4 linked regions of the Homo sapiens genome follow. The protein of the gene in region 3 purifies or fractionates together with the protein of the main gene of each other region. This does not show direct contact. Each region holds a gene or a part of one and is shown on either strand. Other genes may lie near its edges.

What was found.
Region 1: the proteins of TFG (region 3) and SPINK5 purify together in Homo sapiens (affinity purification with mass spectrometry; 3 studies listed by BioGRID and IntAct, with this or other methods). This does not show direct contact.
Region 2: the proteins of TFG (region 3) and DUSP14 purify together in Homo sapiens (affinity purification with mass spectrometry; 3 studies listed by BioGRID and IntAct, with this or other methods). This does not show direct contact.
Region 4: the proteins of TFG (region 3) and DSG4 purify together in Homo sapiens (affinity purification with mass spectrometry; 3 studies listed by BioGRID and IntAct, with this or other methods). This does not show direct contact.

The regions. Positions count from the first base shown.
Region 1 is NC_000005.10:148,058,967-148,066,988, reverse strand, and holds the start of SPINK5 (serine protease inhibitor Kazal-type 5 isoform b preproprotein), read right to left. Parts: upstream 3,010-8,022; 5' UTR 2,945-3,009; coding exon 2,890-2,944; intron 1,643-2,889; coding exon 1,617-1,642; intron 1,583-1,616; exon of another isoform or gene 1,514-1,582; intron 1-1,513. UniProt on the Homo sapiens protein: Serine protease inhibitor, probably important for the anti-inflammatory and/or antimicrobial protection of mucous epithelia.
Region 2 is NC_000017.11:37,485,457-37,492,912, reverse strand, and holds the start of DUSP14 (dual specificity protein phosphatase 14), read right to left. Parts: upstream 3,023-7,456; 5' UTR 2,955-3,022; intron 1,381-2,954; exon of another isoform or gene 1,286-1,380; intron 1-1,285. UniProt on the Homo sapiens protein: Involved in the inactivation of MAP kinases. Dephosphorylates ERK, JNK and p38 MAP-kinases. Plays a negative role in TCR signaling by dephosphorylating MAP3K7 adapter TAB1 leading to its inactivation.
Region 3 is NC_000003.12:100,705,251-100,712,500, reverse strand, and holds the start of TFG (protein TFG), read right to left. Parts: upstream 3,008-7,250; 5' UTR 2,780-3,007; exon of another isoform or gene 2,680-2,779; intron 2,576-2,679; exon of another isoform or gene 1,433-2,575; intron 1-1,432. UniProt on the Homo sapiens protein: Plays a role in the normal dynamic function of the endoplasmic reticulum (ER) and its associated microtubules. Required for secretory cargo traffic from the endoplasmic reticulum to the Golgi apparatus.
Region 4 is NC_000018.10:31,400,773-31,407,795, reverse strand, and holds part of DSG4 (desmoglein-4 isoform 2 preproprotein), read right to left. Parts: intron 6,916-7,023; coding exon 6,776-6,915; intron 4,381-6,775; coding exon 4,162-4,380; intron 1,720-4,161; coding exon 1,423-1,719; intron 1-1,422.

The sequences.
Region 1 (8,022 bases), on a different chromosome or scaffold from region 3:
ATCGTAAAAAAGACTACATCAATAGTTTTCATTTCTGACACAGTATCCAAAAACTCTGATTAGAAAGGCTTCCAAATAAATAATTACTTCTTTGTGTTCTTGCCTTTAATACCAAATATAAGAAGTCACTAAATTTGTTTTTAAAATATTTTTCAGTGAAATAGAGGTTAATGCTATGAAAAATAGCAGTGTAAAATTCACAGTATCTGCCATAAATCACCAACCATCATCACGGACTCTGAAAAAGAAAATGATGGTTTTATACACAATGATATTTATATAATATCCTTCTTTTTTCCCAGTATAAAACTTCCAAGTGAGCATGCTCTCTGATTCCCAAATGTCTAGCTTATTTTCTACTCTACTGAACTTTCTGGACCTCTCCCTATCAGTAAACTTAGATGAAATAGTAGAGAACATGATAAAATTCTCTAGAACACTCATGTAAGAAGTTTCTTTAAAAAAAATCATTGCAACAAAATACGGCAAGAGAGTATTTTAACCATGGTTCTCAGAGTTTCAACGTAAAGAATAGCTGTTTCACATTTTTATTCCTTTAATGTTCGTGGCCAGAGATAAAACAAATTTTGCCACATATTCAGCAAAACATTTAAGATTGTGCTTTAAGTGCTGAATTAATAGCATGCATAGCAGTGTGTGTGTATATAAATATATAAAATGTGTGTGTGTGAGTAATTGGTCATCCTATCTTTCAAATAGATTAAAAAATTTAACTTCTAGTAGAAAATGATTTTTTAATTTATCAAACAAAAGAGGTTTAAGAGTTGGTAAAGCACCTTCTTGCGTCAGGGCCTCTGCGCTCACAGGTGCTTCTGTCTGGCCTGCTGTAAACTGCAAATACCTTCGTGGTTCATTCCCTTATGACCTTCAGATTCCTATTCTAATACTGTCTGTCCAGAGAGAACTTCCCTGATTATCCTTATGAGAATGGATACCACCTCCATTCTCAGGGATCCTATTATGCCTCCTGATTTATTTTTCTCCTAGCATTTATCATTATTTAACGTACCATATGTTTTGCTAAGCTACTTATTAATTTGTCTGTTTTCCTACACTAAAACGTAATTTTCAGGGCAGGAATTTCATCTATTTTGTTTACTTAAAAATAACCCCAGCATCTCAAACAGGGTCTGACATCTAAGAGATGCTCAATAAATATTCATTACATGAACTATATACACCGACTATATACAAGATACAGACCACCCTCTTTTGCATAATGATTACTAGAAAATTTATTTCAGCTTCCTATGTGGTGTATCATGGCTTGTTGAGATGTTAAATGGAACAATAGTAGTTTTCCAGTTGATTTATTTTTTGTTTATGAAATTTTAAAATGCTCCTTTAACATGATAAATTGCCTCTTGCAGACATCCATCATCATTAATATGTTGAGTGTGTGTGTGTGTGTGTGTGTGTGTGAGAGAGAGGCTCATGTCCTGATTCATAAAAATCTGTTTCTGTGTTTTTAACAAAAGCTATTAGTACCTACCAGTATAATATGTTTGTATTATTAACATGAAGGTGTTGGCCACAAACCACTTTTCTTTGGGAATCTTGGAATGAATTCAATGAACAGAAAAAGCAGGACTAACCTGATCTTCATTCTTACTGGCAGCATCTGGGATGAAAATATAGAAACCAAAGTTAAGGAAATGTAAAATATTTAATAAACAAAACAAATAATCCATTTAATGCAGCATCTTGATTGCTTTAATGACAATATGTTGTAAAACCGCAAATGGTTTTTGAACACATTAAGATTTATCATGGCAAATAAAAGAAGGGCACTGGACCAGGAGATTAGTATATATACTCACAAAGGTCTAATCACTCAGAAAGTTACAATTACTTTGGAAAATAATACTCATGTGAATTCTAACCCCATCAAAATAGCTTATCTTCAAAAGGTCCTTTCGGAGTAATAAATGCCAGCCTCCCTTTTAAAATTACAATATAACATACACACAAAATACTATACCAATTATAATTTTGAAACTATATTATAGTTGAAACTATAATATAGCATTACATTTATAGGATATATACATAAAATTTAATTTTCTGAATTCTGGCAGCTCTACCTCCTTATTACAGCTGCAAAAGTTAGAGATCTGACAGAAGGTAAGATTAAGGTCACAGGCTATTATACTCTCTCATTAACATAGGCTCTTTTGTACCTACACACCTATTTTAGGAAAATGGGCATTATTTGTATATGATTTCAGACTATCTATGAGTTTCTCTTTTTAAAAATTTTAATGTTTCAGAGCAACGTAAGTCTAGGCAATTTGTGTTCTCTTAGGGTTAAATAGCAAATATAAAAATCTACCTTCCAGCTCCCACAAAAGTCCCTCACTCTTTGGGAGAAATGCTTTCAACCCATTTAGCATTTGAAAACACAAGACTAAAATAAGCTAGAAGATACCACTGCTTTAAAATAAGAACAGATGATTGAATTTTAAAAAATATTTCATTTATACCTATAACATTAAAATACATATATTATTTACAATTAAGTTTTAAATGTCTATTACATATATAAGAATATGCATTATGAATTGATACATTTAGCAAGAGGAAGATGAAGAAGAATCTATTCAGTTTTCTGAATTAATAAAGAATTAATGGAAGAATTTCTCATGGTTAGAAAATTCAGATTATCTCAAACTACTTGCCATTTCTAAAGATAACAACATAATTATAAAGCCACATATATAAATCTTCAGAACTCTGTGTCTGGCAAGACATTTCAGGATTATACATGCATACGTAAACATTTTTTGGCAGGAGTAGGGGGAGAAAAGTCCCTTCCCCAGGGCTTTGAGATGTGTGGCAAGAGGCTTAGATTACACACAAATTGCTCACCTTGTATGAGGCAAAGAGCCAAGGGCAGAAGCACTGACACTGTGGCTATCTTCATGTTGAAGACGATGCAAGTCGCCTACAGGTCCACTCCATGCATTGCTCAGCTGGTGCAGTATGACTGAACTCGGGGCGATGCAGTTTACTTTTATAAAGCACTGGTGACACCCACATAAAACCAGTTGTTCAAGGTCATGGGACTTATATACCACACCACTTTAGCTTCCATCCTTTAGGATCCTGTCAGGGTGTCAGGTTTGAACAGAGAATATCTATTTCTAAAGTAGGAATGTTCTTTCATGGTACCTCCCCCAGAACGCAATTGATGGAGTCCACAGACCCTACTCAAAGTTGAATATTCTATAATCCTATATAATAACCGAATTCCTCAGAAATACCAGATATACTACCTCGTAGACAAACATGTTTCTGACTGGACTCCCTTCATAAGTGGGAGAGGAGAGGAAAGGAAGACAGATTGGTTGTCCTACCAGTCAGGTATAGATTTAAAGATTTCCACATCCAGAGAAATCCAGGGTTCCTGTTCTGAAGTGTCTGAGTTCAGTGTCACAGACTCATATATATGTTAGAGTTGAACGACCCTAAAAGATAACCTGGCAAAATTCTAATGTTGAATATATAGGGAGGCAGGAACTCAGAGGAGCAATGACTTTCTCATAAGCAGACAGTTTAGTTGGAGCAGGCAGAGGAGGCATCCAGCACTTGCAAGCAGACCACACATATAACATTCTTTCCTCTCTGTACACTGCTTCATCCTTAGACATTAGAAAAGGCAGGAACGTTGGAAAAATAAAACTTGTATGTAACTACTTTTAAAACTTCTCAATCTGCAGGATATTTTATATTCTGAAGCCTTATTTTATATCCTAGCCAAACATCATAATCATAAACATTGGAGACTCAGTTTAACTTTCCATAGCCTATGATTACCCATATTACCGTTTGAAAAATTTGGCTCAATCAGTTTTCTCTAAATCATATTTCTTCCTGTATCATCCCATTATTTAGTCTCCCAAAAAGAAAAGAAGAAAAAAGTTGTTAACAATTATAAATGTGTAAATGTAACATTTTTCTAGAGAAAGTTTCTTCTCTTTAGTTGCTTCTTTCATCCTACAAGTAACACCTTTTTTCTACCAGCTTATTTTGCCCTAATAGCTTAAGAAAGCACCTGAAGAAACATGTGAAGATGACTGAAACCAGAGCCAAATTGTTTCATTCCAGTACTTCTCAAGATATTCACATCCACAGAAGAAAAGTTCGAGACTTTATCCAATTAAAGGCCTTTTTATGATGGTTCCAGAAAACTGATCAAAGTTGCCCAACTTAGGGAGTATGCCAATATTATGAGATTTATCACAGTGAGATAATACGTCCTTTCTTTTTTCTCTCATGAAATAATTTATTTCCTATAAAAATATAATCACTGGGCCAGGCACAGTGTATCACGCCTGTAATCCCAGCACTTTGGGAGGCCAAGGCTGGCGGATCATGAGGTCAGGAGATCGAGACCATCCTGGCCAAGATGGTGAAACCCCATCTCTATTAAAATACAAAAATTAGATGGGCTTGGTGGTACGCACCTGTAGTCCCAGCTACTCTGGAGGCTGAGGCAGGGGAATTGCTTGAACCCGGGAGGCGGAGGGTGTGTGAGTTGAGATGGCGCCACTGCACTCCAGCCTCAGCGACAGAGCAAAACTCCATCAAAAAAAAAAAAGATATACACACACACACACACACACACACACACACACACATACATATATATACACACACATATATATATATATATAAAATCATTGGTTTCAAGGTCTGCACTATTGTTGTAGCTTGGCTCCTTTCCAATGGAATAGTAAAATTAGTGACCACGGAAAGCAAGTTCAAATTCCATTATTGTTACAGGTTAGAAAATCAAAGTCCATCATAGCTTAATGGAAAGAGAATGAGACAGGGTTTCAGAAATCTGTTTCTATTCTATGTAGTCTTTTCAACTATGTAGGGATAGAAATGAACCCAGCTTTGAAGCAAGCTAGAAATGGGTCCAAATCTTGAATTGTTAGCCATGTTGCCTTGGACAAGTCACTTATTTTCTCTAAGCCTCAGTTTCCTAATATGTAAAATAAAAATAATAACACGTACATTGTACTAGTGCTAAGAGGTTTAGAGATAAATCATATATATAATGCGTGTGTGTTTGTGTGTGTGTGAGAGAGAGAGGTGCTTAGAACAATTATCAAGTTTATGTGATAAGCTTGATAGTTAATGATAGCTGGTCTTGCATTTTTACATAATTATAATAACGTGGTTGTACTAGATAATTTCTAAGATACCAAGAAAAGTAAACATCTGTTGACTGTGGATTTCACCAATAGATTTATATTTACTCAGCATAGAAAAACTACCCCAACACAATTTGAGGTGAAATTAAACTATAACGATATATGTTCTCTTTTTCCCTTTTAATTGTATTTTAAACCATAATGCCTAAACAAATCGAAACATCACCTGTTAAAACTTAACGAAAACCATTGCTCTGTTTCAATCAGCATTGATTTCTTGTCTCTTTCTCTAAAAGCCTCTTCTAAATATTCACATATCAATACTAATTTTTTATCTTTCATCTGCCCTGTCAGACCATACGAAATGTGTCCCAACCATATATTCTGTTATTGACGGTAAAAGAGTTTGATGCCTTAAAATGGAATCAATGACTGTGTATTATGCTCTAGTGACCCCTAGCCTAGCCCAAATGGAGAATATTCCCAGGAGTGGAAGTGGTGCTAGGGTGGAACAGAAGAACCAAAAGATGATTGCCTGTCTTAGGAATCTCTACTATGAGGAAACATTGAAGACATTGGTTTCCTTCTTACTGGAAAAGAGCTCCTCAGAGATGCCAGCCTTTTCTGAAATGATGAATAAAAAGTTTGAAACTGATATCTTTTCCAAATGGAGAAAGTAGTAAAAAGAAGATTCAGTGAGCACCCCCAAAATTGGAAGTACTCATCAGCTGGCTCATTTCATTAGGGCTTCTTCTCCATTTCATTTTAGGAATGTTGTAAAGCCAGAGGTGATTCATCACATGCTCTGTTAATTACTCCTCATTCCTGAAAATCACCATGAATATTACATTTAAATGAATGGGATTGAAGGTTTGGAGAACTCAGGTTTGGGTCAGAGTTAGGTTATCAAGGTATTCTTCTAACTCAAAATATCATCCTTGTTTTTAACTCTTTCAATTATTCATCAAACATGTAGAAACTTTTTTCCTCTCATTAGAAATGAGTGGGCTTAGATAATAAAAACTATGAATTTTACAACCTTACGCATTTATGAGGTTGGCAGAATCTGAAGGATACTGATACAGGGGGAGGAAATGAGAAAATTATAAAGATTGTTGTAGATCAGTAATGTTACTACAAACAAAGGTTATTTCCAAAATATAAAGTTACCATATCATTCCTAAAGTCTTCTGTTTTTCTACACAGAGGGAGCCTTGATGACGATAATAGTTAATAAATAACTATAGTCTTTTATGATTAGATCACCTTCCACAGCTTTCAAAACAACCTGCCATTCATTAGCTCTTTTGATTTGTTTATGCAGTGTTGTGAGGCAGCCAATTAGGTGTTATTATCTTTTCTTTACCAGCCAAAATTGGTGTCATAAAAGAAACCTGCAGTAGGAACTAGCTGGGATGGTCATCTCAGCCTTGACACTTTCTTACATTTTATACCTTTAATTTCTCTGAGTTTCCCCACGGCCATCTCACAGACTTTTATACCGTTCAAAGAGAATCCAGATCGAGACCATCCTGGCTAACATGGTGAAACCCCGTCTCCACTAAAAATCCGAAAACATAAAAATTAGCCGGGCGTGGCAGAGGGCGCCTGTAGTCCCAGCTACTCCGGAGGCTGAGGCAGGAGAATGGCGTGAACCCGGGAGGCGGAGCTTGCAGTGAGCCGAGATCGCGCCACTTCACTCCAGCCTGGGAGACAGCGAGACTCCATCTCAAAAAAAAAAAGAGAATCCAGACGTTACAGTGCTTTAAACTAGATACAGCCCTATGCATGCACACACACACAGACACACATACACAATCACTTGGGCAAAAAGAGGTATGTTGTGACCATGAGTAAAATTTATATATTCTAATATATCTTAAAAGATGAAATAATTTCTTTTTTATTTTTTTATTTTCTTTTCTATAATTCTAATATTTTCCCCCATCAATCTAACATGTCTATATTCTCCTGTTTGTTTGTTTGTTTTGAGGCGGAATCTCACTCTGTCCCCCAGGCTGGAGTGTAGTGGTGCAATTTCGGCTTACTGCAAGCTCCGCCTCCAGCGTTCATGCCATTCTCCTGCCTCAGCCTCCCGGAATAGCTGGGACTACAGGCGCCCACCACCGTGCCTGGCTAATTTTTTTTTTTTTTTTTTTTTTTTTGTATTTTTAGGAGAGACAGGGTTTCACCGTGTTAGCCAGGATGGTCTCGTATCTCCTGAACTCGTGATCCACCCGCCTTGGCCTTCCAAACTGCTGGGATTACAGGCATGAGCCACCGCGCCCGGCCTATATTCTCCTTTGTAAAAGACACTAACTGGAAAACAGCCTTTACTCATCTTCTTATCTGGTAATGTTGCATTACCAACTAACTTCACTCTCTCTGTAGGAATTCCTTTCTGTTTGTCTGGAAAGACTAAGAAACTAGAGATAAGCCTCTCATTTTATCTAATAATAGAATGGGATGGGCATTGTTTGTTTACTGAGTATATAGACCCTGCTATTTACAGACATAATTACTGCTTTTATTAGATTAGGATTAAGAAGACAGGAATTTCAATGTCTAATTTTTAATTGTATTAATATTTTCATATGGGTTATATTTTATTTTAGAAACAACAATCAGCTTCTCCCTATAGCTGATATTACTTGAACCCCTGACCCATGGCCCCACACTGTTTATCACTCAAAAATTTAGTGCATTTTAAAGTCTCCTAGGATTTATCCTGACAATAGAAAACAGAGGTTTGAGGAGCTACAGTCTTTCAATAAATCATAACAAATTAATCCTGAAGTACCTAAGAGTCTACCGGCCGGATGTGGTGGCTCACGCCTGT
Region 2 (7,456 bases), on a different chromosome or scaffold from region 3:
TGTCAATTAGGGATTTATATTTAGGGGATAAAAACTATAGAAAAGAAGGAAATGATTTCCATAAAAGTCAGGGTAGTTTCTGGCTAGGACCTCTGGGGGAGGGAGAGAGTGTGGAGTCAGATTCTTGACCTGCAAGACAGTTACACTTATGTTTTCGTTAAAATAATCCATCAAATTATCCATTTGTTTTAGACACTTTTTTACATAATTCACAATTCAATAAATCTAATGTTGATTTCTGGGAATTCAGAACCATGACAACAATTCTGGCCAACTCTCTCTGAATGTCACTATTTGCCTGTCAGCTTCATAAGGTCAGAGACCGACCTTACTTGCCTTCTTCCTCTGTATTCAGGCACAGCACCTTTAGCATGGTAAAAGTCCTCGGTAAATGTATAATATATAAATCCACAGAATCCTGACATGAATTTTGTTTTAACCCATCCATTTCCTGAAATTACCGGTTTGAAGGGTGCCCACATTAACACTTTCCTTTGTCTTCACCCAGGTGAAGTGAAGCTTTCATAAATAATAAAGCCATCTTAAATGTTAGCTCTGTAAGTTTATACCCAGGCCTTGGTTGCTTTAGCAACTCTCCCTGTCTTCCACTCCCTTTGACGTTTCTTTATAAGCAAAGACAAGACAATAGGCTAGTAGTCCTAGATTTTTTTTTTAAATAGGAAAGTTTTATTCAGCACCTAAGAGTAAAACCTAGGATCGTAATGATTCTACTACTTTGAAGTTGTTTAAAAGGGGTAATTTGCCCCTTGCCCTGGGAAGTAACACCGTCTATCAGGATTATTAAAACTTTACCAACAGTTGTACTTAAACACATTACTTGTTCTTGACAGAAGCCAAATCTTTATAAACAGGACAAGTCAACTTTAAAATAATTAATTTCGGTTAAAAAACCACTTTGTGCAAACGGACATTTATAAAAATGCTTAGAAAAGTCTAAAAAGATATACACAAACCGATCAAGATGCACTCGGCAGTTACTTTTGAGGAAGAGGTTCAAAAGAAAGCTTTAACCTTATTAGTAAAGTTTAAATCTCACAGAGAATGGTTAATGTATTTCTTGTGATTTTGGGAAAAGCATTTTTAATCCATTTTGCCTTAAAATCCCAATTGCAAAGGAACCCATCAAACATAGCCCTCCCTAAAGCCCACTTTTTAAAAATGTTAAAGTATTAAAGGATTTCCTGGACTTACATACTTGGCTAGTCTTTTATGATATGAATATACATTTATGCCATTCTATTAATTATTATTACAGAATTCATACCTGCAGTCAACCGATATGAAAGCTTTCAGATGAGAACTCAGGACACACACGTTCAACAGTGACATTAAAACGACTTGGAATGAAGGAAACTGTCTCCAGTTTTATGGTGGAAAGCCAAAAATACCAAGCAACTACCTCTCCTCCCCCAAGCGTCAGAAGATGAGTCAGAGCTGGAGGCAGGAATAGGGCCCATGTGTCAAGCCTCCTGTGCAGGGCTCCTTCCTACCTCCTCGTGGCAACCCTCGTCCCTCCCTCAGGTCAGGGTCTCTGCCCCGGCCTGTCCCTGATGTGAAGTGTCCCTGATGTGAATTCTCAGGCGTCTCTGGCGAAGAAGAGGCGTTCACTGTGGGGGTGCCTCCTTCCCTGCATTTCTCAAGGGAACCAAGACTGGGGGCCTTTATGAGTCCACAACAACTAACAATAACCAAATCGCAGCTCAAGGGAGTGGAGCTTCCAGACACACGCACAACTCTGCAAAGAATACAGCACCTTTGTTCCCCTGGTTTTAGAGAGCAGGAAGGAAATGAGCGGAGAGAAACTGTGACTTGTCCAGTGTTACTTAACTTTGTGGCAGAGCTGAGTCTCAGGCATGGAGCTGCCGGCTGGCCTCGGCCTCTCTGACTCTTAAGTGATCTGTAGAATGTCAGGGAGGACGGTCCAACATTCCATCATACTTCTGAGTGGCCTTAGGGACTAGGAATTCCAGGAGACTCTGGGTTAAATCTCTTGGTCCCTATTCTTTTAAGGTTACTAAGGATACCCGGAGTTTGCTCTTCGCCTCCGTTTTTACATCTGTAAAACGGGATGGTAACGCTCTCCACCCCCCTCTCTTATAAAACGATAATGAACAGCTAACGAGTTAACACACACTAAATGTCCGGAGGTCCTGCTGGATAGAAAGTACAAGGTGGTTTTAAAAAAAAAAAATCTCTGCATGGTAAAACTGCATTTGTAAGTCGCTCCTCCTTCCCTAGCCTCTGGGATGCCCAGTTACCATAACACTGGCTGGTACCACTGGCAACATCCACCTAAATAAAATACAGTTATACAATCCACTTAAGGCGGCCACAGCACGCACCCCCTCTTTACAAACAACAACTCAACTTCGCTCCGGAGCAAGGGTACTTAGGAGAAATAAAAAGACAGATGTTAGCACCGCGCACACCCATCTACCACCGCAGAGAAAGACTCAAGTTGGACACTTGGCATCGCTGAAAGTCAAGTTGCTTCTATCCATGCACCAGAAACCTCGGGGAGATGCAAAAAGCGGCGGCGCGCTCCAGAGCGGGTGGATGCCAGCGAGAGTAGGCGGCCTCAGCGGGGTCGGAAGGCGACGGAGGAGGCGCGGCCGAGGCTGCTGGAGCCCCGGGGCACAGGGACAGGGTCGCGGGGGCGGCGCGGCGCGGCGGGGGAGCGGCAGGGGGCGCACGCTCAGGGCCGGCGAGGGTGCGCTGCGGAAGGTCTCGGGCCTCTCCTCCGCGGGCCGCCCCGAAGAGTCAAGGACCGCCAGGGAGCAGGTGGGGGCGCCGGCACAAAGTTTCCAGAGGCGGGGTCGCGCGGGCCTCTGGGTCCCCCTGCGCCCAGGGACCCGAAGCGCGAAGTCCCGCCCTCCCGCCCCACCCCAACACCTTCCCCACAACCCCCACCCCCGGGCCTGCGGGTCCCCTACCGGCGCGGCGCGGCGCGGAGCGGGTTGCGGTTAGGGCTCCGTCCTCCTGCGCGGCCACCGGCTTCTGCGGGCTGGGCGCCGCGCGCGCCGCCTCCTCCTCCCTCCGCCCGCGCCCGGGGCGGGCCGCGCGCACGCTCCCTGCGCCTGGCCGCCCTCTCCCGAGGTGGGGGGACGCGACGCGGGGCGGGGGGACGCGCGGGGCGGCAGGCGGCGCGCGTGCGCGCTGGGCTTCTGCGCCGTGCGGTGTGGTCCGGGCGCGCCCTAGCTCCCGAGGCAGCAGCCTCCCCTAGAGCGCTCCTCCGTGCAGGTCCCCTGGTCTCTTACCCTGCCTCACACACCGGCGACCCCTCGCTTCCCCAGTCAGCGTCTGCGTATGAGCCGGGCTCGAGGCGGGCTGCGGGGGCGCTCTGCTGGGGTGCTTTCGGGATTGGAGAGGATTAAAGGCGAGAAAGCAAATCCGATACAGGTGTGAAGCCGCCGCGGGTGGCTCGGGACGGCCTCGACCCCACCCCACCGCCTCCCTAGCCCGGAGAGCCCGGGGGTTGGGACCCAAGAGCGAAGGGAAAATCAGTAGCGCGGCAGTTCCTGGCTGACGCTTGCTGGAACAGGTACGGGCAGCCGTGGCGCCCGAGACCCGGAGGTGAACATGCAACCTCCGTGCGCATCTCCACCTGCTCTCGCCACGCCAAGGTGCCGTCCGAGTCTCGGAGCCCACACCCACCTCCCGAGTCCCCGAGGCAGGGCAGGGGTTCTCCGGAGCGCAGGCGGGACACGGGCATTTGAGGGCTCATTTGCTGTGTGACTCTGAGGGTCTTTTAAAATTCAGGTCTGCCCATCTGTAACATAAGTCGGTGCGAAACGGACGTTTTCCAGCACAGCCCCGCCTCCCCTCCGCCTCTGGCAGGTGAAGGGAGACACGTGGGAGGCAAAGCGACTTCCTCAAGGCTCTGCCGTGAGTCAAGGCACCTAAGAGTCCTGACTCCATGCCCAGTCCTTGACTCACCAGCCCCTGCTCCTCGCCGTTGCAAATGGTTGGCCTCAGAATTGCTGAGCAGTCAAAACGAGTAGGCATGGGTTTGCGGGGAGGGGTGGAGGGGAGAAGTAAAACCCGCGTTTGGGGTTTACATCTCCCGATGTCCTCAACCAAAAGCTTTGAAGCTTTTTCATGTTCTTCCCGATCTCCACTGCCCAACCGGCTTCAGAGTCATCCGGTGCGTGCTGGACTATCTAAAAGTTAGTGATAATTTTAATCATAATCCTGGGAAACGAAAAAGGCCCAGACTAGAGAGATTTATTTTCGTCTTCGTAAAAAGAGAATCAAAGCTTTAAAATTAGGCAAAATTAATCTAAGAGAAAACAAAGCAGCATACTTTGCTAGATTCAGGAAACCACTGAGTTCAAATCGTGCCTGGGAAAAGCATCTTCCTAAAACTAAATTGTGACGTCAGTTCACTTAGTGACTTACTTGTTTACATGCCAATACGAAAAGAGCAAATCTCTAACAGAAAGGATTGTGTGTTTTCATTTCTGCTCAGCACCCCCTAGTCCTTGAAGCTTCAGTCAATTCAATGACTCAGCAACACAAATAGATGCATCCCTCTTCACATTCCAGCTTGTTACACTGTAGGCAGGTTTCCAAAACAAGCTCTAGTGACAAGGAGCTAGGCATTTTCATGGATTATGGGAACTAAACCTACCATGAAGAGTCAGTGAAGAGGGAGGTGGGCTAAAATAGAGTTTGTGTTGTGTGCGATGTGCGTGTCAAGATTTAGAGATTTAGAGATTAAGTAGAAAGAAGTGCTGGAGTCAGACCATTTAATGACTGTACAGACATGCCCTGGGGTAGGGAGGCGGTTTATGCCTTTACAGAATGTGGAAGTGCGGGCTTATACATGCCTGTACCAAAAATGCAATTTGAAGTTATTCTCTTCTGGACCAGCACTGTCCAGTAGAACTTTGTGTGATGATGGACATGTTCTGTATCTCCACTCTCCAGTACAGTAGCCACTAGCCTCATGTTGCTACTGAACACGAAATATGGCTAGTGTAACTAAGGAAGTGAATTTAAAATTTTATTTTAGTAAATTTAGATAGCCACATGTGGCTAGTGGCTACCTTACTGGACAGCACATTTCTGGACTATAAGTATGTGAGTTTTTTTATAGGTGTCACTTTTTCTTCTTTTTTTTTTAAGATAGGCTTCAGGATGGAGTGCAGTGGTGCAATCATGGCTCACTGAAGCCTCCACTTCCCGGGCTCAGGTGGTCCTCCCACTTCAGCTTCCCAAGTAGCTGGGACTACAGGCACGCCACCACGCCTGGCTAATTAGTTTTTATTATTTTGGGGGGGACGGAGTTTCGCTCTTGTTGCCTGGGCTGGAGTGCAATGGCACGATCTCGGCCCAGCGCAACCTCCGCCTCCCGGGTTCAAGTGATTCTCCTGCCTCAGCCTCCCGAGTAGCTGGGATTACAGGCACGCACCACCACGCCTGGCTAATTTTGTGTTTTTAGTAGAGACAGGGTTTCTCTACGTTGGTCAGGCTGGTCTTGAACTCCCGACCTCAGGTGATGCCCCCTGAGGTTATAGACGTGAGCCACCGCACCTGGCCTTGTTATTACTAAAGAGACCTAGTCTCTTTAAATAATATGTTGCCCAGCCTGGTCTCGAACTCCTAAGCTCAAACAATCCTCCCACCTCAGCCTCCCATAGTGCTGGGATTAGAGGCATGAGCCACTGCGCCTGGCAGTGTCAACTGTTGTGGATGTAGAAACATTTTAGAGGCTGTCTGCTATAAAATTACAATTTGTCTATGCCCAGGGAGGGTTTGGGTTCTCCTGACTCCCAGCTAAATAACCAGTGCTTTCGAGCAGGGCAGCATCTACGAAGAGTGAGAGCTGATATGATTAATACAGTAAGTAGAGGGTGGAAATTTGTACTCTGCTTAGCTTCTGATGTCTGCCTTTCCAAAAATATTCTCCTTAACTGCTTGGGCAATGACTGCTCCTTAGATTAATCAGACTTTTATGCGTCCCTCAGAATGAATAGTTGCATCTTCCATTTGTATCACTGCCTCTGGTTAACAAATTAGCAACAGCTTTGATCTGTCAGAATTGGGGAACAGCGGTCAACAAGGCTCCCAGTCTACAGAAGTTTGATTTCAGGGTGCCATCGGGTCTTGTGGCTCACAGAGATTCGGAAGGCCTGCTTGCCTGTGCCTCTAATTCCAAATTATATGCCATTGATGGCTATAAAAATGCAACTCCCCTGAGATAAGTAAATCTTTAAGCTACTGTCCTTTGGCAGATTTGAGAGGGACACTGGACACCAGGTTTCTGGGAGAAAAGATATCTTAAAAACTAGCAAGATAGAAGTCTCAGAAGTCTCAGAACACATTTCTTCTACTACAGAAGTTTGCCTAAGGCTTGTGCTATTTCATAAGATGTAAAGTAGCACCTTATCTAGATATCATAAGGATTAGCTAGATGTTATTAAATGTAAAATACTTTGAACTTCTACTTTCCGAGTTTTCACAGTTCTCATAAAATGTACTTTCCAAGTAATAAAGAATTGTCACATTACAGATAAGAAAAAGAAAAAAAAGCAAAAAGAGAAAAAGCATTGCTTACCACCATTTTATTACTTAACAAAACAACAATTAGCATCTGGATTTCTTTCTGGTCTTGATTGTATGCAAGATTTTTTACTATTGTTAACACAATTACAATCAAAGAATGCATACAGTTCTGTAACCTGACATCAAGCTTTTTGAGCCAGGCATTATAAAAGGGAACATTACAACATGTCTAGGATAATTAGGTAATTTCAAATCTGTCTCTGAAATGTTTTGCCCTTAATTCAACCCTTGGGCAGTAGCAATGATGCAGTGATGAGAATTTCAAGATAAACAACATCCTTGTAAAATGCACATCTGTCTGTTTTAACATTTGTTCTTGCAGATCTTCATGTCCCTCTCTGTGAGACTTTTGCATGATGTGAATTGGGTGGTACAGGAAAATCATGTACTTGCTCATACCTGACCGCAGTGAAACTAAATGTCAAAGGCTCAGTGGGAAAAGAAAAGGAAGGGAGGCACCAGGTGTGTTATATACCTTAACACATTTAATCTTTTGTTGTTTTTGTTTTGTTTTTTTGAGACAGAGTCTCACTCTGTAGCCCAAGTTGGAGTGCTGTGGTGCGAGTAGCTAGGACCACAGGCGTGCGCCACCAAGCCCAGCTAATTTTTTGTATTTTAGTAGAGACAGGGTTTCACCATGTTGCCCAGGGTGGTCTCAAACTCCTGAGCTCAGGCCGGGCGCGGTGGCTTACGCCTGTAATCCCAGCACTTTGGGAGGCCGAGGCGGGCGGATCACGAGGTCAGGATATTGAGACCATCCTGGCTAACATGAAACCCCGTCTCTACTAAAAATACAAAAAAAAAAAAAAAAAAAGCCGGGCGTGGTGGCGGGCGCCTGTAGTCCCAGCTATTCAGGAGGCTGAGGTAG
Region 3 (7,250 bases):
CCCCAAGAAAATGATCTCTTGAGACTTTTCAAGGTATCCTACAAACTACTACTGGCCACATTCTAGTTTCAACTTCCCGCCTTACTACTAGCAGCTTTCTGCTTCCTCCTCTTAAATCTGTTATTTCATTAACACCACACTTCTCTGCAATTATTCTTTATTCTTTCGGGGTATGTGAAAGCACTCACCTACTCCCCCAACATATCAACCCTTCAAGTACTTCAAAAAAGTTTTCATGAATCCTATTATATGAATATTATATATTAATGCCCTACTATTCTTCATATAAATACGCTAGGTCCTTCCATCTAACTAGTCCTTAAATTAATATCTCTAGACCCCTCACCATGCTCTCAACAGATATTTTATTAATAAATCTTCAATGAAATGGGTCATTAAAACTAAATATAACACTCTAAGGTCAATGCAGAACAGAGTGAACTGCATTCCACTCTAGGGATGCCATGCTTATCTTAATGCAAAATAAGAATACAGTTAGCTTTTTATCTGCCAGTTCTCACAATGGACTTCTCGTGAAGACAGTGATTAACAGAAATCTCCACACAACCAACTCTTCGCCTTCTGCAATGCCTTCTGCAATGCTTTCGGTATTCAGGAACTACTTATTAAATACCTACTATGTGCCAACTCTAAAGTATAATTACTTCACCAAGATGGTAAATATTCCATCTTGCTTGCTCTGGCAGCCTAAGAGTAATAAAGACCTTTCAATAAATCAATGTATTTGTTACCTTCTCCTTCCTACAAGAAGTGTAAACCAGCAATAATGTAAAAGGAACCAGTGCTTAGCTTCAGTGAGCTGGTACTATCTATTCCCAGCAGCACCTAGAAAAGTGCCTGACATATAGAATTTAAAGACTTTGTTTAAATTTTTTAATTATGGGAGAAGAAAGCTGTAATATAGATCAGTTTTTACATCCGACCCCTCACACTGTACCTTCTTTATGTAGCTAGAAGTGACTTCCATCAGACACACTCCTAATTAAGAAAAAAATTCCAGCTTTGAAGATAATTGATGGTATGTCCTTCTGACTGGGGTACGGGTTTGTTGCCCAATTTCAATGGATTTAAAATTTGAGGGCCGGGCACGGTGGCTCACACCTGTAATCCCAGCACTTTGGGAGGCCGAGGCGGGCAGATCACGAGGTCAGGAGTCCAAGACCAGACCGATCAACAGGGTGAAACCCTGTCTCTACTAAAAATACAAAAATGAGCCAGTTGTCGTGGCGCACGCCTGTAATCCCAGATACTCAGGAGACTGAGGCAGGAGAATCGCTTGAACCCGGGAGGCGGAGGTTGCAGTGAGCTGGGGGATCACGCCACTGCACTACAGCCTGGGCGACAGAGCCAGACTCCGTCTCAAAAAAAAAAAAAAATTGAGTCACGTATACTTTCTATCTGCCGTGTTTACCTGCAAATTCACTTTTTGTGTTTCCTATTGACTGTAAACATCTTGTGGCCAGGAACCAGTGCTTCTTTCCTAAAGCTGTCGTTTGCTCTTGCAGTCATCTCCCCAGAGTAAACACAAAAGTATCTCAAAAGTAAGTGTGCAACAAAACTTTCCCTTCAAGGGGAAATCCCAACCCAACATTACTTCACATACAGAATTCTGGTACTCATTTTCTCTTCCAAAGTAGAGACTGGTATTAACTAGTTCCTAGAACTGCCAGTAGGAGCCCTACGACAAGCTCTTCTCCCATCTTGTCCTTGCCCCGCCCCCTCTGAAGTCCAGAAATGACTCGGCTTCTAACTTGTATAATATAACCCTCTACCAGGTACACTTTTCTCAGCACTGGGAATAATCTGACACGCCCAAGGTCATATAAAAAGCCTGCCTCCTGAACCAGGTTCTAGGTTCGGCGGACAAACTTCTGGTTCTACTACCTCTAAGGGTAAGACCCTGCTCAATTTCAGAGGCTGTGGCTTAAGCACCTCCTGAGGGGAGCAGTTTCCTTCAAGAAATACTAAGCCAAGTCAACCTGTAATTATTCTAAAGAATGCCAAGAGGCCTCAAACCCTGCCTCAAAGGCAGTGCAGCAAGACGGTAAAGATTCTCACTACTAGCTATGTGATCTTAAGTCCTCCAAGGCTCACTTTCATCACATTCGAAATGAAAACAACCATATCTGAATTTGGAGGAATCCTTGTGATGATTAAATGAGACAGTGCATCCAAAATACTTACTGTAGTGTCCAGCAAAGCAAACTCTTAAAGTTAGCTAGAATCATCACTATAAACCAGGCTGGGCCTCCAGCCGGCGCTTGATTAAGCGCTGACTTAGCCAAGGAACTAGGCTCCGATTCTATGACCCCAATCAACTTATTCCCGTAGGCGCCACTCCACACCCTTCCGAGCTCCTTCGGGTATTGGGCGCCGGCCGCCCCAAACCTCCCAAAGCCCCTCTCCTCTCAATCCAAACGCTTGGAGGCAGGCTGCACCAAGGCATTAGCTGGCGCACTCCCCTCCCGGAGCCCCCCAGGCGCGCCTCCTGGCCACCGCAGCCAGGGGTTGCCTCTCTCCCCTCCCCCTCCGCGACCTCCCTTCCCCTCCCCCCATGCAAGGCCCCGCCCGCCCTCCCCCCCGGCCTCGTCCTCCCTCCCACCCCCTCCTCCCTCCCACCCCCTCCTCCCTCCAGCCCCTTCCCACAGTGCCTCCGACCCCAGCTGCCGCGCGGTTCGAACGAGGCCCTCCCAGCGCCTCCTAGTCTCCCGGCCTCCTCGGACAGAGCGCCCGCAACCCCCGTCTCCAGTGGCCATACCGGCTTGCGGAGGCCGCGGCCGCCGCCTCTCCGCAGGTCTCCGCTGAATGGGCGGACGCGAGGCCACTGGACTGGGGCGTCGCGGGGAGGCGGTGGTCACGGCCCCCTCGGTTGCCCTTCGCGACCGCCGCACCTCGCTCGCAGGCTCGCGCGGGCCCCGGCCAATCGCGCTGACCCAACAAGCCTAGCGAGAACTTGGGCTCTGTACGTGGCAGGTGGGGGAAGAACAGAGGCGGGAGCAAGAAAAAAAAAAATGTCCTTTCGCCCCTCCTTATTGCGCGTGGACATACCCAGGACGCATGCGCGACGGCGCGAGGCGCAGGGCTGGCTGGGTCCCGGCTGCCTAGGCCGAAGAGTCCCTGCTTTCTCACTGGATGACGGGATTTAGGAAGCGTGAGCTGCCCCGATGCACGCATGCGCGGGGCGTGACCACGCACTTCCGGTTTTCTCGAAAGCGGGTATTTCCGTTTCTCGCCAATGGGCGGGGCGTAGTGCGCTGTTCTAAACTTTTTGAGAGTTGGTTGCAGTAGACGTCTGTCCAACTTTAAGTGGTTTTTGTCGTTATTGTTGACCATTGTAGTAACAGCTGAAAAAGAAAAAACCTTTTCTTCTATAAATCCATTCATTCATTATTGGGAGCCTATGCTTTGCCAAGCCCGGTTCTAGGAATGGGGGTGAATCATTTTGTGAGCAAGGAGTTTCCAATTAAGCAGGGAAGACCTACAGCGTTTATGAGCAAGGAAAATCTGTAACTGTGTAAAGGACAAAAGCTGGGAAATTAAGGCTAAAGATTCCTGAGTGATTTTTAGAGGATAAGGCATTTGAGTGTGTCCTACGTACTCTTCCCTTCTCCCTTACCTGTTCAAATAGAAATACAGTATGAGTAAGTAGGAATTTATAGCCAAGGGGTGGAAGTCGGTCAGTGGATGGAAAATTACTAAGAGGAAATATCAGGGGCAAGGGAGATTCTGGCTAAACCAACACAACAGGATTCTAGACGAAGATAGGCCAGGATAGCAGACATCACCTGGGGGTGGTGGAGGATGAGGAACCCCATCAAGGGTGAGGGATTCTCACTACACTGCCTTAACAAGGTTCTTTGCTGAAACTGAGTTTTACAAGAAGATGCACAGATGGTCCTAGGAGAAGGCCCAGGAGCCCGAAGTTTGGCCAAACGGAGAATGTTTGTCACTTCTAAGGTGGAGACTAAGCTGATAAATAAAGCATTTAGACCCTACCTGGTCTCCAGTTGTTTACCAGTTATAAAAGAAAAACTTAAGCTGAATTAAATTTAAAGGAGTTTAATTGAGCAGTGAACGATTTCACGAATTGGGCAGCCCCCAGAATCACAGCAGATTAAGAGACTCCAGCAGAGCCACGTGGTGGAAGATTTATAGACAAAAAAAGGGAAATGAGGTACAGAAATTGGCAGTGAAGTACAGAAACAGCTGGATTGGTTACAGGTTGGCGTTGGCCTTATTTGAACACTTAGCAGTCTATGAGTGATTGAAGTGTGGCGGCTGGAATTGGCCAAGACTCGCTTATTGTAAGAGACGCATACTTCTAAGTTAGGTTTTCAATCTTGTCTGTTAAGCTAGGTTACAGTTCATCCACAAGGATTCAAGTATAGATGTATGGAGTCCTTCTCAGGCCATATTTAGTTTGCTTTAACACCAGATACTCCTAAAGGACCTGGAGTAAATTCTGGTGTTTCAGGGTGAGAAGCTACGTTCTTTTACAACCATAAGTAGTGTGATCTTTTTCAGTTATAAGTCTCTGAAACTTCTGTTTGAGAGTGAAATAATGTAAGTTTACACTGTTCACTTCTGATTTGTATTTTCCAACAGTTGTATTGACCTTTGAGCAATTGTTTGCAGGGATAAGGGAGTGGAGTACTGCAGAAGAAATGAAAAACAGTTCCTAATTGCTCTCCAAAGAATGTTATTCATTGCTTATTTTTTAAAACTGAATAATACAGATTTGGGGAGATGCACTGCTGTCAGATAATAGTATTATGATGTCATTAAGATGGTTTGGGATGGGGTAAAACCACAACCATATGGCAAAGGTAAAATATTCCCTGAAGGAAGTGAATTATACTACTGTTATAGTAGTATATTTAAACTAAAAAGAGGTCAGATCCTGAGGCAGGAGATAAGGAGGTGAACCTTGGCCTATTATAAGGTGAAAAGAGTATCTGCTGAGGATCCCCAGTGAGGGGGCACTCAAGAGTCCTGCTACTGAGGAGAAATAAGCTGGTCCCTGTTACACTGTGGTCATCTGTACGCTAGGAAGAGAGGCACCCATAAGCTGGCCTTGTGGAAAAGCTGGAGCTCATGGAGCTCATGGACTCCGAAAGCAACTTGAGGCTCTTTATGTTGTAATTTCCCTCATGCTTCATCCCGAAGCCATCAGTAAAGTCTTCTTTATGGTAAAGCCTATTCCCAGCTACTTCTGTGGAACTTGAGAGGTGGGGTTCTGGTGATTTCTCAAGTCGAAGCTGATGCACATCTATGTACTTAAGCTCCCAATAAATACAGGTGATATCTAGTGACAGAGCCATAACCTGAATTGAACCAGTTACCTCACTTACAAGAAGATGGGTCTCTTCTACTATGTCTGTAGATACATACTGGCCTTCTTTTCTGCATCTAGATGAATTTGGTTTTAAATGAACACTGAGCATAGTCTTGAACTAGAAAATACTACTCATTTCTTCCAAGGAACTGCTAAGAAAAAAAAGAAAAGAAAATACTGCTTAATGGTAGTATATTAAAGTTGAGGATATGTGAAGGAAGGAGAAGGAGTGCAAGGAAATATCTTTGACCCAGACTGTAGCAAGGAAAGATATGAGATTCTGCACTACACAGGTTATTTTCCATGTTTCATCTGAAGAAGGGTTAAGACTTACACTGTGATTTTAAGAGAAGGAGTCAACCAACCAACTTAGCTACCACCTGCTCTTTCTCCCTGAAAGTCTGTGTAGCTAAAACTCCTCACATGGAATGGGGGGAAAAAATCCTAAGAATGAAAACGGGATTCTCAGACTGGACAAGAAATGAGACAAAGACTATGAGCCCTGTTAGCAAGTTAGATAAAATCTATGTTTCATCATGTTCTTCTTTAGTACTTAGTATAAATCATTTTGAAAATTTGAGTCATCTTATATGTCCTCAGAAGAACAAAGGAAAGCGTGTACATTCCTCCTTGGATGAGAATTTCCAACGAGAAGTTATGTCCCTTGCCAAGAATCAGCTCTGTTGTGGCAGCAGCTAGCTAAAAAAAGAGAACTCCAAACAGAAGGGGAATCATGAGGACCAAACAGGAGCCAGCTAGTCAGCTCAGCCTCACCTTCACTGGCTAAATGTAAAGATTTGCTTGTGTGAACATAGGAAGCTGCCACCCTATGCAGAGATAATGAAGGAGAAAGGAACGATTTCTTACTTTGTACCTTTGAGTGAGTGATTCTTAGCACTAGCTAAGCAAAATACTTCAACCTGTCCTACCAGCTTCACATCCGTGAAATCCCTAAAATGCTTTTGCCTTACCATGATGCTCTATGTCCAATCTCTCTTTAGAGAAACTACTCTCAAAGGCAGTTCTTCCTAGATTTTGTATCACTAGAGGCTGATCTAGACATTCAATACATAGTTATTGAATAAAATAATGAAAACTAAGTTCCCCACCACTTTACAGGGCAAGCTCCCAGAAAAAACAAAAGGATCAGCTGTCAACGGGTAAGTTCCTAACTCCCTAGCCATGTAGGATTTGTCTCTTAGTAATTTGAAATCATTCACTTTTCTTCATTTACATCCCCTGGAGACAGTGCTAAGTTACCTCTCTGCTAAATTACCTGTCAGATTTCAAGTTGAAAGAGAAATGCAATTGTGAGCTGAATTGCATCCTTCCCCCAGAATTCATATATTGAACCACCTCAAAAGGTGACTGTATTTGGAGATGGATTCTTTAAAGAGGTGATTAAGTTAAAACGAGGTCATTGGGGTGAGCCCCTAATTCAGTATGACTGATGTCCTTATAAGAAGAGGAGATTAGGACACACAGAGAGAAACCAGAGATGGGTGCACACAGAGGCAAGGCCATGTGAAGATACATTAAGAAGGCAGCCTTCTGCAAGCCAAGGAGAGAGCCCTCAGAAGAAACCAAACTTACCAAATTTTTATTTCCAGCCTCCAGAACTATGAGAAAATAAATTTCTGATGTTTAAGCCACCCAGTCTGTGGTGTTTTGTTATGGTAGCCCTAGTAGACTCATACAAATGCCACAAGATGTGCAAGAAGATATAACTTTTCATTTGATCAAGAGTAGCTTTGTTAGGCTCATTTAAGAAACCTAGGCCCAATTAGCCGGGCATGGTGACATTCGCCTGTAATTCCAGATACTGGGGAGACTGAGACAGGAGAATTGCTTGAACCTGGGAGGTGGAGGTTGCAGTGAGCCAAGTTCGTGCCAC
Region 4 (7,023 bases), on a different chromosome or scaffold from region 3:
TACTCAATTGCTGTAGAGTTATATTCTGGGAAAATGTGTCTAATATCATTGTGAGAATCACTCATGATCTTTGCATAGCTTTGAAACCTCACAGATTATTTCAAAAAAGAAATCCTCACCAAAAGTCAGCTGTTATTTTTTATGCCTTGAAATGATTACATTTTAATTAGTGCTCATCCCTGAAAACAGCAACAATACAGTTTGACAAATTTACTTCTCTTTAATTTTAGAACCCAGCTTTTGATCCCCATGAAACCTAAATATTGCAAGGGCAACCTAAAATGTATGAAGTATTCTTCCTCTGAGGATCTATATGTTTAAAAAAACTCTATGGGGAAAGGAGGGCCCTTTTTGGGAAATTTTTGTTTGGTGATCTTTCCACTTCTGTGACCAGTCTTAGTTTAGGCACTCACCCAGAGCCCAGAGGCTAATTCTCTGTTCTAGTCTCTTCTACTTGCTTCCTACCGCAGGGTCACCTGCGCTCATCAGCCCTCATCAACTCTTCTGTGCCATTGTACTGAAGCCCAGAATGCCTGGTGTGTCATGAACATGCCTCCATGCTGGCTCCCAGACTCCCTTTTGCCTCTCTGCTTCCTAGGTGTGCTATGCTCTTCCATATCTTGCTCCCTTTTGTTTGTGTGTGTGGTTTTTTTTTGTGTGTGTGTGTTTGATTACCTTTCAAATTTCCTTAGACATCATCCTCCTTTAAAAGAAATCCTCAGCAGGGTGCAGTGGCTCATGCCTGTAATCCCAGCACTTTGGGAGCCCAAGGCAGGTGGACCACGAGGTCAGGAGTTCAAGACCATCCTGGCTATCATGGTGAAACCCCGTCTCTACTAAAAGTACAAAAATTAGCCAGTCGTGGTGGTGGGCGCCTGTAGTCCCAGCTACTCGGGAGGCTGAGGCAGGAGAATCATTTGAACCTGGGAGGCAGAAGTTGCAGTGAGCCGAGGTTGCGCCACTGCACTCCAGCCTGGGCAATAGAGCAAGATTCCATCTCAAAAAAAAGAAAAAGAAAAAAAGAAAAAAAAAATCCTCAGCTTTTCAGGCTCACCTCAAAATCCACTTTTCCAAAAGATTGTCCTAACTTTTCCACATGGACTTAATTGCTTCTGCCTCTCTACTCTTAAAGCATTTTAAGGAAATTTCCATGATGGGATTTGTTTTGTGCTTTTAGGTAGTATATGTAGTGATTTGCATGTGTTTCCCATTTTTAGGACTGTCACTCACCCTAGGCTTTCTTAGTTATCATTGTGGATTAAGCGCATATATTTGTCAGTCCCATTGTTTATTTCTAAGGCACTCAAAAATTGCTAGAGATACCAAAAAGAAATGGCTCCATGAACCTAACCATCCCAGCGAGCCTCGTAACAGCCCTATTTTGAAGAACTATTGAAAAGAAGGATTTAATTGAGTACTTACAAATCAGTAGCAGGATGCCCAGAACCATCATGCCAATCCCTGCTGGTCCAAGACCAACATTTGAAACTCCAGCTTGGTCTTCAGTGACAGGCCCATACGTGTCACCAGTTATGTCCTCTGTGTAGATGCCCGCGGCACCAGAGTCCAGGCACATGTGGTTGTCATCGCAATCACAGGCATATAACTGCACCATTTGTGCCAATTCACATGCTCTGTTATAGCTGTCCTTCACCAGGATTGGGATTTCATAAAATCCTGGAGATAAAACCTGCTTAGCCGTAAGGATTGCCGAGGTAGCTGAAATGGAAGAGAGGAAACAGAAAATAAATGGAAATTCCTTGGTGGGCTAGGGGGGTGGTTAACTCTCCCTAATACCAAATATTGACTTAAAACACTAGATTTTTCATGCTTTCTTAGTCATAAAGCACCTTGTACTTTTTTTTAACATTTATTTAATTTATTATTATTATTATTATTCTTGTTATTTTTGAGACAGAGTCTCATTCCTATTGCCCAGGCTGGAGTGCAGTGGCACGAACATGACTCACTGCAGCCTTGGATTCCTAGGTTTAAGTGATTCTCCCACCTCAGTCTCCTGAGAAGCTGGGACTACAGGTGTGTGGCACCATGCCTGGCTAATATATATACATTTAGTAGAGACAGGGTTTTGCCATATTGCCCAGGGTGGTCTTGAACTCCTGGGCTCCAGCAATCCACCTGCCTTGGCCTCTTAAAGTGCTTGGATTACAAGCATGAGCCATTCTGCCTGGCCTTTTTTACTTTTCTTTCTTTCTTTTTTTTTTTAACATTTATAACTAATTTTTAAATAAGTATTGCTTACTGCTGGATTGCTACTTCTATAATGCAGGCAAGGACCTTGCTGCATCTTTCCAGAGCAACAGTAATTGGCATATAATATACATTCAATAAATATTTGCCCAATGAATAAATAATATTGAGCTGAAAGAAAATATTAGAAGTCTTCTATTTAGGATTACAGTTTACACAATACCCTCCTTAAGACTGTTTATATGTATCTTACTCAAAATTGTTGCCCTTTCATTTAAAATTGTTCACATTCTCCTAATTCTTTGTGCTATCATTGCCTATGAATTTTCATAAAACATATTGTCTAAAATATTCATTGGAATTTATTTATTAATACAAGGAGTGTTGAGATGATTAAATTTACAGCTAAACCATGAATAGTAACTGATTGATCCATAGCACACAATATTTTTTATTATGATGGTTTATTATCCTCAGTTAGCTAGATGGCAAGCCAGCTATGTCCACCAAAATCTAACCTGTGCACAAGGTAAAAATGAGATAAGGCAATGCCACAGCACATTAAGTGAAATTCATTCTGTTCTAAAACACCAGCAAGCATTGAAACAGGTCTCTAGGAATATCATCTCCAGTGTGGTTATATTTTTTATTGGCAAACCTGTAATAGCTATAATATTATACCTCCATGCAGAACATTTTTTCTTACATGTGTAATCATAATATCTAGGATCCGAATGAGGAAAAAAGTGGTTAGCAATTATTATTGTTTATGAATGGGCTATTGAGCTTTATAGGAGATGGTGAATTCAGAGTTGACTTGATATTAATGGAATTGCTTTAACATGATTAACTTTAAAAAATATTAAAGTGGTTTTGTTGAAAAGAGCTAAAGGTTTGATGGTAAAAACAAATTGCCTAATTTCTTACTTTATTGGTGGTATTTTCCCCACCTTATTTTAGGGTTTCTCCATTCTGTAAATAGAGGGGCTTGGTGACCTTAAAGAGGTGGGAAGTATTTCCTCTCACCCTGGGCTCTGTAGTCTGATGGCCACCGACTAGCCCATGAAATTTTCCCTGTAGCCCCAAATGAATATGAGATTGGGGAGCTATCTTAGCCCATATGAGATCCTCTCATAGCATTTTCTTTTTTATTATGCACTTAACGTTTTAGGAAAAAGAACGCAAGGTAGATAAAATGTTATGTTATCTGAAATTTATTCTTAATTTTTATCGATGTCAGCCATTCAATTGTATGTAGTTATAGTCAAGATACATACATATACAACTTCGTGATCTGTTTTTCACTTTACTTTCTTTGGTTTATGCATTCTTTTGTATCTACATACTTTGCATAATTCTAATTTTAATGGCTGTATATTAACACATCTTAATAATATGTACTCTGTTTAATCATTCCTCTAATACTGAGCAATTTGGATTTAAATTTTTACCCTTAAAAATAAGTCTGAACTCATAGTTACTGTAAAAAACAATTTAATTGATTTTATGTGCTCCTAAGTGAGTAGTAAATGTTTAAATGTATCTATGGGATATATGAGTTTCAGAGACATTTATGTGATTTGTCTGAATTTATTCAGAATAGGGAATTGTGACATTCTTAATTTATGAGTTTGTTAAGGGTTCTGTTTATTTTAAACTGAATAAATATTGGTTCAACGTTTTACCTACTCAAAATGATGGGTAAACTGGTATTTATCCACTACTATTTGTAAATTAAATATTAATGAAACATTTTGACTCATTTCATTTCAGTTCAAAATTTTATCAAATATCCTCTGTGTACATGAAATATTTTTTTCATTTAATGTTAATATGGCAAGAACTGTGGAAACAGAAGTAGAATGTTTTATTAAGTGACTTGCCACATTTTTTGGTAATTGTTTTGCTTTTGGACTTAAAGTCCAAAAAACAAGCTTACGTTTCACTTACCATTTGTTGATCTGACATCCCACATGTCAGCTATTCCTGGTGGCTCATCAACAACACAGAAAGTAAACGGAGACCCATAAGAATGTTCATTAACAGAGATAAGGACTGATGGAGAGTCAATGCAGATGGTTCTTCTTTCAGGAAAAATGTTTGGACAATAATCATTGATATCAGGAACCTCAATACATATGGTTCCTGTAGCTGTTTTTCCAGAGCCATCTGAAAGAGTAAGGGTCATTGGTGTTGAGGTAAATGGTGTTAGGGAGAAAACTCTTTCTCATATCCCCTGATGATGCCATGGAACTTGTAGGAAACATATACGTGACTTGGGAGGCTTGACAGGTTCCTGCCCGCTTCAGTGACCCAAAGTCACTCTTCCCTTTGTGTGCTACCTTCCAGCCACACTGCTTCTTTTGAGTTCTTTAAACAAGTTTCTTTTTTACTCTGGACTCTGGCACATTCTTTTCACCCTTCCTAAAATGTTTTCCACCCTCATTTCATTTTGCTAATTCTGACACATCCTAAGGCGCAAAATCAAATGTTCTTCCTCCGAGAAGGTTTACTGGTTTCTAATCTCACCCTGTTCCCATAAATTAGACCCCCAGGTCAGTTATGAACCTCCATTCAGGATGCTCACTGAGTCCTGTGTTTGTAGAAATAACCACAGCTGAAATAAATACTTGTTTGTGTTTTTCTTGTGTGCTCACTGTTTATTTTAATTGCATCTGTTACATGCTATTTCTTTCTGAAATGGCATTTCTGAAAACAAATATAAGTCTATTAGATTTTTCCCTAATCCACTTGAAACAAGTTTTTGGATAGTATAATTAATCAGAAAGGGCCAAAGACTAAAGATTAGGAGTCCAGGAGCTTTTTAGTCCACTTTTCTACTCTATGTTCTGTTACAGCGAATACGGAATTTTTTTTGCTTCTTTTTAACTTGAAAAGAATCTTAGCTTTCTCGCTTTTAAACTAGAACGTTGTCGTCTCTGGGGTACCTTACTAGGTCCTTTTCTGAGAAAGCAATAAATTCCTTTTACAGATGTTTTCTGTGTGCCTAAGTAGTAGTCATTGAGGTAACTGAATGAGAATAAACTGAGAGCCTACCTATAGTCTATATGATTTTGTATAATATGTTTATATACCCTATTCAGCATTGGACTTGTTTTTACTAGATGAAGGATGTCGATTTCACTTAGCTTCTCATTCGAGAGGCATCAGATTATTCCACAGATTGTTTTATTTGTCATTCTTTGATCTTTGGTAGCTCTTCTATTACCTTGTGATTGGCAACCAAAGCTCAAGCTATTGCTTATAGTGTTTGCTTCCCAGTAAAGTTTGCTCTGCATAGAGGTCTGTCTCTTCACCTGATGATGGTGTGTGCTGAAGCAAACTTATTCCAACCATTCAGATAGCTCTGTGCCAGTGCAGACACTCTGCTTAGGTGAATAAACAATCAGCTTTGTTTCTGGGTTTCTCTTGGTACATTTTGACAGCACTTTCTCTCTCTTTATTTGCTTGGAATGACTAATTATTTATTCTAGCATTTGAAGATTTTTCACATATGACCAATATGCAAACATAGGGTGCAATCAACATGGTTAGAATCCATTTTCAAATTAGAGCTTCCAGAATACTGATAATGAATAAGACAATGTTATTTATAAAACTGACCCAGGCGTTAAAATTTACCCGCCACAGGATGAAGCCCAGGATGTACAGATGATAGTTGGTTTGGTTTTATCATGGTTTCTTTTTGAATTTTATGCTGCTTCTTTATCTTTATTTTTGTTTTGATACTGGAAAGGTCAGCTATAAACTCAATGCAAACCTACAGTATCTGTCTTACATTAGGCATGTATCTTGGACGCCTGTCTTTCCCCTTCCTTCGTGGTTCCTGACCTTTGTCTCTTGTTTGGTTCTACAGCAGCTGGTTTCCTAGGCACTGCTTCATAGAATCATTAACTATTGATAAATAAACAAATCCTGTTGCTGCTCACCAAGAGGACTGCTTAACAGATTTACCCATGTGAGAGGTGGCTCGCTTACAAGTTAAGTCAGTGCATCTGTATTTATGACTTTTAATATGGATCTTATATTTGGAATAATCTGTGCTTTCTTGGTCCATAGCATCTTACTATGGAAATATGTCTAATCAAGCAACACTCACACAAGCTTCTCACTGTAGTTCAGTTTTAATGGATCTAAAATAATTGTATTCTTGGAGACATTGCTTTCCCACAAGGTGATCCCCAAATGAACTTTGTAGAGCACGTAGCCCTTACTTTAAGTAAACATTCCCAACATACCCTACAAGTGAGATTAGCCATACTCAAGAGACAAAGTCATAATCAGAAGATGAATTATATTTTAACTTTTATGCTGTAAGCCATATACAACTCAGTTTTGGAAGTAGATGAAATAAACTATGGCTTCAGTGTAAATTATGATTTTAATTGACTTCAATTCTTGATTTAAGGTGTTTAGGGCTTTCCATAAGTCTTGCATACACCATTAAAAATGTCTGAGTCACTCAAATATCAGCATTAGAATAACATAATATTTAATATAATAGTACTAGTTTTCTTAAAATACTGAAAATAAATTTTCTTACCATCTATAGCCAGGATCTCTGCTGTGTATATCCCATTGATAATATATTTTGACTTCTTATCAAATTCTCTAGAAAATTGTATCTCACCAGTTCTTGAATCAATTTTTAACCAGCTGCCTGCATCATGCCCTATGATATATCTGTTTTTAAATAAAAAAGTTCGTTATCATGCTTTTATGAAAGTTAGTACTTTTAAATCATGTAACAGCTACAATGTGGCAAACTTTAATATTGTGTTTTTATGTTTT